Regions from separate parts of the Homo sapiens genome. Here region 2 is linked to region 1. Evidence: fine-mapped expression QTL. A gene starts in region 1. The other region holds a variant in brackets. All regions are shown on one strand. Distances are between the middles of the regions.

Region 1 (5,380 bases):
CCTTACAGTACTTTAACCCCTCAGAATATTTTCAAGTCAAACAGTAAACTAAACAATATACTGTAGATGTTAAGCTAAAACGCACTTGTTAAGTTTCATTCCTTTGATGAAGTGGCATGTAGTAAAGGGGGGAAGGGATAAACTAAAGGTGAAAGAGTAATTAGCTAGGTCTCTTAGGTGATGTGGGGTACAAAGGTCTCCTTCCTCTAGAGAAAATGATAACATTGGATTACAAACACATTGGTAAACATCACAAAATGCTAAAGTTGGAAAGAAAAAACATAATTTCATACAAACGTTTTGTTTTATATGTGAGACACTTGAGACTTGGAAGTGATATGATGGCCCAGGTCATACGGCCAAATGTAGTCCCAGAACTAGAACCCAGGTCACTGGGGGCATGCTTAACAGTCCTTTGTGTATTGCAGTTTCCATGATGTGTCCTCATTGCTATCAGAACTGAAATGATGGCAGAATACACAAAGCAATGGACTGGACATCAGAAGATCCAAGTTCTAGTCTTGCAAATGCCACTAAATGAGATGTAAATCCATGGAAAACTCCCACTGCTTGTCTAAACCTCAGTTTCCTCATCTGTAAAATGTAAACAGTAATTTACAGTGAGACTATGCAGACCACAATAAATGCAGAAGAACTCTGCCATTTAAAAAACCACCTTATATAAGTACAGAGCAGGCACCTGGTTATGACAGAAAACCTAACTGTGATTCTAATACCAGCACTTGTTACCTTGATAAATCTCTGAATCTGTGAGCCTCATGTTCCTTCTGTGTTTACATGGTAAAAAGTCTTTGCCCTGCCTCCCTCAGAAATGTTTGGAATTAGGTGAGAACACTCAAAAGAATTTACAAATTGCAAGACACTGATGCAAATGTAAGGTGTTATTATTAAATCTCTCTAGTCTTAACGTGGACAAAAATGTAATGTGGTTCTATCATTTAGTGCTTCACAGTTTTCCTTCTCAGGTAAGATGTCATCATACATCAGTCTCAAACTCACCAGCTTTCTCATCAGTCCTCATAAGTCTCTGCCCACAGGACCATATCAGAACCACCGTTTCCCTCCGCTCAGAGATCACACATGAAACTCACTCAACCTCCCACTGGTTTACACTTGGCCGATTAAGGTTTTTTCCCAGCGTCTCCTTTCAGCTGGGAATGCTCTAGCAAAGCTTCCATGAACACTACCCTACTTCATCACATTAGAGTCCTAATGAAACCCATCCTTACTTCATCACATTAGAGTCCTAATGAAACCAATCCTTTCGCCTTTCTCCACTCCAACAGCTGCAGAACGCTTCAGTCTCTTCGCAGAACAGGGGAGAAGTCTCTGGCTGAATGTGCTTCATTAGAGGGACAAAAGGGGTTCCCCAAACCGAGACTCAGAAGTACTGACACAGAGACCGCTTCTTCCTTGCACGAGATTAACACATTCTGAGGTCCTACCGGTCCCTTAAGGATCATTCCCCTTAAAGCTAGGGCCTCCTGCATCTGAGAATGTCACAGAGAGGTAGTGATGATAGTGGGTGTTATTTCTGATCTGTAACACGCTCCCTTTAAAAAAGCATCAGAGTAACTAGGATTGCCTTGTTCGGAGCCCTGATTTCAGTAGATTCGATGAAAGAATTAATCAATCTACCCAAATAACTTCTCCGGAATAGGTTTCTACTCAGCCACGCTGGGCACCAGACAAGAGAGCTGGGGGTTGGGGGGGATAAGAAATGACAACACGCTCATCTGCATAGATGCCAGATAAGCAGACATTTGTTTTCTTCTGTTCTGGCGACTCCTGGCACCGGCATAGTAAATCAAACCCGGGCATTCTCCCTCCCCAGTGCCCCTACACTCCCAGCCCCTGCCCCAGATGTTGAAGCGTCACGTTGACCAGGCTGGGGGAGAAAGCCTGGGAAACGCAGAAGTCTGTTGCTGCATTTAGACTGGAACCATACCGCACCTGTTCAATCCGGCACCAGCGCCAGAAATGAGCAGAACACCAACTCGCAAGCCCCTCTTGAGATACCAGGGCGCCTAACAAGTTCACCGCTGTTTCGTACCGGGGGAGGGTGGTGGGAGACCTTTCCTTCCGCTGCCAAACTCTGCAGGTTCCCCGGAAAAGGGGAGAGTACTCCTATTTAAGTGAACCCAGAGTGATCTCCGAGTGTCACTGCGGCCCCGGGGATCCGGGTGACGAGCGGGTGGGTGTCCGTTGGGAGCGCGCAGCTGTGGCCCCCGCGGAACGAAGGTCCGCTTCGGTGGCCACGGGCGCCCTCTCCACGTCACCCCCAGCACAACGCAGACAGGCAAAGTGGAAGGGTAGAGAGACCGACGGGTTTCAGCAGAGATGCAGAGCCCCTAAGCGCAAGCCCCTCAGAAGGGTCTAGTGGGAAGGGGCCGGGGACGCACAGGAAACTTACCTCACCCGGGCAGCATTCGGGTGCCTCCGCTACCAAGACCAGTTGCGCCACAGTCTGCAAGTTATCGGGACGTTGTCGCTTCCCCACAGCGAAGGGAGAGCAGTGCAGGCGAGGGGCGGGAGGGGCGGGAGGGGCGGGAGGGCGGAGGGGGCGGCGGGCGGGGCCGGGGCCGGGGGCAACGCTGAGGGCGGGCAGGTGCCGGGGCTGGAGCCGCGGGGCCAAACTCGCTCCGGACGCGCCTTGGCGGGGGCGCGCGGCTACGAGTGTGCAGTGCGCGCGCGCCGCGGCGAGTGTGTGTGTCCCCGCTTTCCCCTTCCTTCCCCGCCGGTCCTCCGGCCAGACGGAGCAGCGAGCGGCCGCCAAAGCCCAGCAGCTCCGAGCGGCTCCACTGCCGGGCGCAGCCTCGCCGCGGCGCGTTCGGGGACCGGGAACCGGGGACCGAGAGGAGCAGCAGCGGCGCCCGCCGGGCTCGGGCGCGGGTTCCCGCTTGGTGCGCGCCGGAGTCGGAGCGAGGCGCAGAGAGAGCCGGCTGCGCGGCGGCTGCCGCGGCTGGGGAGGCTGCAGGCCCCGCCTGCCGGCCGCCCAGGCTCTTCCCCTTTTCTCTCCACCCACTTGCCCCATCCCCGCAAGCCCTGCAGCGAAGGCAGACCGGTTTGCAGCACCTGCCGCAACAGCGGCCGGAGCTTCAGCCGCAGTGGGCTGGGCGTCTCAGCCGGTGTGTGGGGACCGGGCGCCTGTCCCGCCGCCGCTGGCCCAGACTGAGAGCGGGGTTGGGGTGGGCCCCTGGAATTGGCGGGTGCCTCCAAGACTCCAGGGGTTCCCGGCCGTTCTCAGCGTCTTGAAGCCCTGCGAAACAGGGCTGTGGGGATAGGGCGTCCCCTTTCCCCAGGCCACAGAACTCAGCTACGCCTGGTCGCCCGCCTGCTAGACTCTGCCTGAGGCGGCGAAGCCGGCACTTGAGCGCAGGCGCCCCCTTCACGAGGAAGGGACAGGCCAGGATTCCAAGGCGTTGGTTGCTCCCATTCTAAGGACAGCAGGTGTTCCCAGCAAGTAAGACCTACCCAACAGGTAGGGGTAGGCTGGCGAGGAGGTCCTAGGAGAGAGAAGCTGGGGGATGTCATGGGAAAGCGCTGTGACGGGGCTGAGGGCCAATTCCTACTGATAGCGCTTAGTGGGCTGGGGGCACTTGCAACGTCACCTGATGTCAGTCTAGCTGCGAAGAGGGTAGGGGTCAGATCTAAAGGACTCCTTTGGGAAAATGCTATCATGAAAGCTAAAGCTAAATTCACTTAATAGGAACCAAAAGGTAGCGGATCCTTCGCGGCTGAATTGAAGCAAATGGTATTTTTCAGCCTCATCACTTCCTTCCACTTACCCTTCTTTACCAAAAACAACGCCGGTGGAAAACGTGGGATACATTCTGTCTGGGGAATAACAACATTTCATGATCCTTATCTTCAGAGATCTCTGGCTTCCAGTTTCTGTTTGAAGGATACTCCCTTAGTTCTCTGCAAATGAACACCTCTTTTCAGTTTTGTAATCTCTTTGTTTCTCTCACCCCCCACCTTGAGTGAGTCTGCTATGGTTTAATATCAGCCTTGAATCAAGTGCAATAATTTCTTGATAACAGAAGTATCTATTTTTTTTTAGCTTTACTGAGCCATAATTGACAAATAAAACAAATATCTGTTATTCTTCAGCTGTTTTCCCAGCCTGCTTCTTGCAGATGTGGCTGGCCATTACTGAGAGATTTAAGGTATGGTTTGTTTAGAACCCTGTGACTTGGGTCTGGTTTTCTCCTGGCATCCTAGACGCTTCACAGCTCAGAGCAGGAGGAACATACATCTAGTCCAGCCCTCCCGCTTTACAGATGAGGAAACTAAGGTCTCAAGACATTAAGTAACCCAAGGACCAGAACACAGTTTCCCTGACTCTCAATCCCTGAACAATAACTAGCAGAAATATTGTATTAACAAAGTTCAAGATGGGGTGGATAGACCAGTGGTGGAGGACAGAAGAACCGATCAAAGAACCGTTCATCTGACTGGTACGAATCACTGTATAGGGGGCAGCATCATACCGCTGTAACTAGCAGGCTAGTTTGGAATCTGGGAATGGTAATCCCAGTCTCTCCTTTTCCTGCTTCTCAGACTTCAGCTATGAAATCCAGAGTGGAAAATGAATTTGCCTCCCAGGGAGGCGGTGGTAAGTGAAAGTGCAAAGTCAGTTTCTGGTAATGCAGGGGAGATGAAGACAGGTAAAGCCAAACATTGGATCAAAAGTGATCACGCATTACGTATAAATGTCCAAATACATGTATCCATACACATGACCCTTTTCCCATTAATGAGCCTGGTATTGAGCCACTTCTGTAAAGCCCAAAAGCAAACAGCCTTAGGTTTTCAGAGAGAAGTGTCCAACCAGACTGCCCACTGGCTATTTAGAGAGCTAACTTTATGAAGCAGGATTCTAAGGAACTCTACCAAGAGCCTTACGATTGCATTATTACTGTGAATTGATTAATGGAATGAATGACCATGTAGTATGAGACCTGGTATTTCTTCCTGATTCTATCTCCAACTCTATCAACAGGGATTTAGGAAAGTCATCCTGTATTGGAAATAATACAACAACATCAATATCATGAGCAATAGTGACTTGGCCAGAAATTCTGGAAACCTATTTAAAAATCAGAAAATATTCATCTAATTATTTTGCTTAATTTTAAATGTAATTTTTTCAATTGATTCCTGACCTCAGTCCAAAACTTTAATAATGCTATTGAATACTCCTCTAACTATGAGAAACATGCATGGGTTCCTAGTAGTACATTTGATAGTATTAGTGGCCCCCCAATAAATGACCTCCTTTTTTCTCCAAGGTCTTTCCCTCTAACCTTGTAGTCCACTCCTATTCTGGGCCCAACCGTATGATTTACTTTGACCA
Region 2 (5,380 bases), 110 kb before region 1:
GATTCAATTCTCAGAAGTGGCATGTAGATGGCCCAGTCTGAGTAACTCCATGTCCAGAAATGTCTTCCTTTTGCACTTATGTAGGAATAGAGCTCTTGGCCAATGCAGGATTCTTGGCTCACAGGTCTTTTGTCCCATCTCTCTGTAAATACTGTATTGCTTACTGCTTACTTCCCACTTTGTAGATGAGTAGTTTCATGTTAGTCTGATGCTCCCTGCGCTAGAAGCATGCTGGTTTTCTCTGTCTGGAAACCTCTGAGGGTCTTCTCTTTTAACATTGTTCAAAATTCCATAATGATAGATGTGCCTTTTTTCATTCATCTTCCCCAGTAAAGAGAAACTGACAAGAAGTAAATACGTGGAGATCCAAATAGGAAGCTATGTGATAACCTGACTTAAACCACAAATAGAATTTAGGTTATCTCAATGAGGAATGAACAGGCTGCATATCTTTCAGGCAGTCCTCCATGAATATTATTTCTCCTAACCAGTCTTTTGATAAGAATTGGACAGTGGAGTACTCAAAGTTGTAGTCTCTGGCAAGAGCCTGGAATGCAGAAATTCCAATGGCCAAGTAAGGACATACTCACAAGGTTCATGTCTCCTTAGAAGATGTTACTATGTAATCTGACACAAGAGTCCTAGTTAAAACTTATTTTCAAAAATTATTTCTGATATGAAAGAGAGCTAACCTATGGTGTCATATGATTGGACTGTTTAGCACCAGCTCAGTGAGCAATAATATGTGCCAGACAATGACTTTTTTTTGACTATGTAGTTACTTATCTATTATTTCTGGTATTTAGTATCTGGATTCTGTGACCTTAAGGAATAAATAATTTATACTATTTCATAGCTTTCTATAGTTCTATGTTTTCACTCAATTTGAGAGAAGGGAAGATCATGTATTGAGCAACTACGATGTGTGAAATGCTGCCACATATGTGATTTCATTTATTCTTCAAAGAATCCGTTGGCACTCCCCAATTTAACATGTGCTATTTTGACACTTGTAAGTGTCCTATAAAGTCCATGGGATGCAGTCATTTTAATTTTGCTGAGCTGGGCTCTCTTGCTGTGAGGCTGGTTTGTAAAAGTGACGCCCTTAGTTGGTGAATGAACCTAGCAACCATCCATTCCCACCCCACGCACCTCCATCTCAGCCTGGCTTTGCCATTCTCTAAATCAGTGCTGGGCATTACAACCACCAGGGAAGCTTTTTGAAAATTCAGCTTCTGGGGCCACACACTGAAACCAGGGAATCACTACCTCTGCGTGGTAGACCTAGGGAGTCAGTATTTTCAGCACGCTTCACAGGCTTGGGATCATCTAAGCTACTGTGACCAGAAAAGGCAATAAAGAGAGTTTATCACTTCAGGATTGCTTTCAGGGTCTATTAGGGAAAACAGAAACCACTTTGGGTATATTAAAGAGGGGATATTTAATACATGGAATTGGTTATAAAAGTGATGGGTGAACTGAAAAGCTAAGCAAGAGATGGTGATGAAACAGATCACAATCAACATGATGCCACTATTGCTTTTAGGGCTGCAGGCACAAGAGAAGGTGGTGTTAACAGACCTCAAAAGCAGAGGTCAGCTGGGGTCAGAACATCAGGACGGGGGTTGACTGGCAGAAGTTGGAACTGCAGTAGGAGGGGTATGTTTAGAAGCATGGAGAAGACAGTCACTATTGGAGATGCCACCTAAGACACACAGGTTGGGGGAGAACATCCTGGTTTTTCTCATCTACCTTCTACCCGCCAATCCCTGTCTATGGCTCCCAGAGACCAACCTCATGAAAAGCATCTGAGCCCATAGGAAGCCTGAGAAATGCATCCTATATGGGATGACTTCCCTGTGATACAGAACACAGGAAGAGTAAGGAATGGCTCTAAGGACAAACGACCCAATGATGGGCCATAAAACAAAACAGAAAGTATAATGAAAGTGGGAAAGCAGTAGGGGAATAAGCCTGAGAAACATGATTCTCAATGGAAATGTGGATTGGGAGGTAGGCTAGGAACTGGTACACACGTTTCTATTGTTATAGCTCTGGGAATCCGTTAAGAGCTTAAATAGATCACTACCAAGTAGTCAGGGTCTACTGCAGCCCCTGCATTAAGTCTAGGAGGAAGGAGAGGAGCGAGGTTGTGACTTGGGATGATTTTCCTGGAGTCCAGTCAAGTGGTAGGGCTGAGATTTGATCCAGGGTTGTCTGACTTCAAAACTAATGCTCTTTCCACCATACACCTCTCTCTTTTACTTGTTTTCTCCTACTTAAAAACAATGAGAAGATTGTCTAATCAATATTGCACCGCATTTTTCAATTTGTAAGTGCAATCAAAAGGTTAGCCAATTATATTAATTTACATAATTTTTTCCTATAAAACTTGTTCTACATCAGTAAGCCTCAACCCAGAGGGCATGTCTTAATTGAAAAGGTGGTAGAGGAGCTTTTTAAAACTCTATAGTTACCGAAAGTTTTAGATATATTGTGCCTGGGGGCCATATGTGAGTCAGAAGCAACCCTTTCAACCTCTAATTCCCCAACTAGGGCCATAAAACTCAGTATTTTTAATTTGCCACAGATGAGTTTGCTTCTCATACATGGCCAAATAAGTGGGAGAATTGCTAATTACCTAATCACTTAACTAAGTAGGCCAATCTGTAGACACAAGAGGTTAAGGGACACTAGCCACGAGTCCTTACTCATCTTCCCATAAAAACAAACACTTTATTAAACACTGATAAAGTGAAGCAACAAGAATGAATTGGAAGAACGCTGGGATAGGCCTCCGAAGGCCTGGGTTTCATGTCCATCTCTGCTGCTGTCCACTTCTCTTCGATTATGAATTGCGCTAACTCCATTAGATAGTGCTTTTGTTTTGGTGCCTCTGCCAAGTTTCTTAGGTAGGGCCTCACTTCAAATCCTCTTTGGAATGAGGAGAGGACTCATTGATTATTTGGTCATTATGAGTGCAACTTGCCCTATGGGAATTGGGCTTCCAATAGGATAGCCATATTCAAATATTTTCATGCCATTCAGGCTGTGTATGTTAACATTTCCTAG[C/T]GCATTTCCCGAAAGACAAAGCAATTGGAAGATAATTTGGGCCTTGGTCACACCTGCATGTTAAAGTCAATCATTTTTGTTTTATTTATGCTCTTTTGAATTCATTTTTATTACCTAACACCAAATAAATTCACTCTTTCATTCATTCAATGAACATTTATGGAGCATAACATGTCAGGCAGTAAGCTAGGCCCGGGGCCATAATGACAAGGACAGGTACTCGTCTTCAAAGGAATCCTATTAGCAGGAGAGACAGGCATTGCAGTGGCTACAATTTACAATGTGGCATGTCCTTTACTCTGGGTTTTTGGAGGAGGAACTGCATAAGTCAGCCTGTGGGGCTCATGGAAAGCTTCACTTATGAAGAACACTGAAATTGGACTTAGAGCCGTTTGCTGGGGACATAAGGTTGAGAGCTAGAGGGTGGAAAAGAGTCTGGGCACCGTGTTGGCTTGCTTACAAAAAGACCCAGCACCGTGAAGGGTATTTAAATTTTCATGGGTGTACTCAGAGATCATGAGTCCTGCATTTTAACAATTTGCCCGCAAGTAGCCCGAGGTTTAGGATGTTACCTAAAGGGTTACCAACAGACTTCCTCATTGCTCCTTCCACCTATGATCGTAAGTCCCTCTTAAATTTTGTGCCAGAATAAAAAACAAATGTGTGGAAATTTATATGGATTCATGAAAACCTAGGGAGCTATTCTTAGGAAAACGTCAGCCTGGTAAACAGTTTTGCTGGGAAGATAGGAAGTATTATAGTTCTTCTTCTAGAGCCCTTACAAAGAGGCGTGGTATTTTTTTTAATGTGGGTTTGGCAACAAAAACAACAGTAACAACAACAACAACAAAAAGCAGGAGAAAGCAAAGGTTTAAAATGTGCTGGGTTATTTTCTGAGGCTTAAACAACAAAAAAAACACCAAACTGAAACAATCCTTAACATAGTTTCCAAAGCAGAAATGCCTGTATTTTTCAGACCAGAAAAAATTCTTATATTAAGAAACTATAGGCTTAGAGTTTTTTAAAGAATATTTGCATAAACTCTCAAAGAAATGCAGAAAATCTGTATGTTAAATATTTGTACAATGGAGGCCACTTCTACATACATATGTTCAGACATATGGTATGTTACACATTTGTATGCTTAGAAGCTGTAAAAATAGAACTATGGTGTCTTACATTCAATGTAAAGCTCTCCTATTCTTACTGATGAAAATAATTTAAATGAGGTTTCACTTCATGTATCTAATATTTATATAACCAAGCCACTGCCAAAACCAATTCCAAACGATGGCACCTGCTCGCTATGAATCCAAATGGAGACCAATCAAAACAAATTGCAGGGCTCTTATATTCTCTCATAAAACACATTCATCAATTCTCAGAATGGCTCTCCCAAAGTGAATAAACAGAATAGCTATAAATGGCAATGACAAAAGGATCAGCATCAAATGAACCACTTGTAATTCATTTTCCCAACAAAGGTTGTGCTAAAAGAATTCATAAGCCTTTTCAAGCCAAGCCTTCATTGCAAACATTAGACAGAAGAAAGTCGCCAGTGAAAACAGCCATGACGGATGTGTTGCTTTCAGACCAATGTAACTCACAGCCTTTCATGAAAAACACTGCTACTGCATGATGTCCTGCAATGATTTTCATTTTACATATACAAAGACATAGTATGTATCTGTGTGTATCTGGTGATAGTGTCGGGGTGGTGGGGAAGCTGGGAGTCGGGGGGAGTAATTAGTTAGATAGTCATGATATTTGGCATGGAGGCAAAGAATCCATGGAGATTTAACTAACACTGTTACTTTTCTATCTCTTCCCAGTCACATCTGGGATAATCACAAATAATCTCACATAGTTGAACTTCTTGCCTCTATAACTTGCTTACATTTTTTCTTCCCCTTTTGTTTTGTTTTGTTTTTGAGACAGAATCTTGCTCTGTCACCCAGGCTGGAGTGCAGTGGCATGATCGCTGCTCACTGCAACCTCTGCCTCCCAGGCTCAAGTGACTCTCCCGCCTCAGCCTCCTGAGTAGCTAATATTACAGATGCACACCACCACGCCAGGCTAATTTTTGTATTTTTGGTACAGACAGGGTTTTGCCATGTTGGCCAAGCTGGTCTCGAACTCCTGACCTCAAGGGATCTGCCTGCCTTGGCTTCCCAAAGTGCTGGGATTACAGGTGTGAGCCACTGTGCCAGCCTCTTCCCTAGTTTTTACCATACATTTGATACTGGGTAGACTTCACAATATTATATCTTTACTACATGGCAATATTTCTCATTTTTCATTCACCAGC

Evidence for each region.
Region 2: its variant is fine-mapped to the expression of PIP5K1B in tibial artery (GTEx, PIP 0.93).

Annotation. Positions count from the first base shown.
Region 1 is chr9:68,702,817-68,708,196 of GRCh38, reverse strand. It overlaps PIP5K1B (phosphatidylinositol-4-phosphate 5-kinase type 1 beta), which reads right to left and starts at 2,957. Exons shown (of 16, transcript NM_003558.4): 1 at 2,435-2,957. RefSeq lists enhancers at 1,140-1,289, 1,740-1,829, 2,518-3,443 and a silencer at 2,580-3,099.
Region 2 is chr9:68,807,821-68,813,200 of GRCh38, reverse strand. The region is part of intron 2 of PIP5K1B (phosphatidylinositol-4-phosphate 5-kinase type 1 beta); the gene reads right to left. Among named protein-coding and RNA genes, the nearest start is that of PABIR1, 30 kb to the right of the region's middle. The variant C/T (reference allele first, on the strand shown) is at 3,073.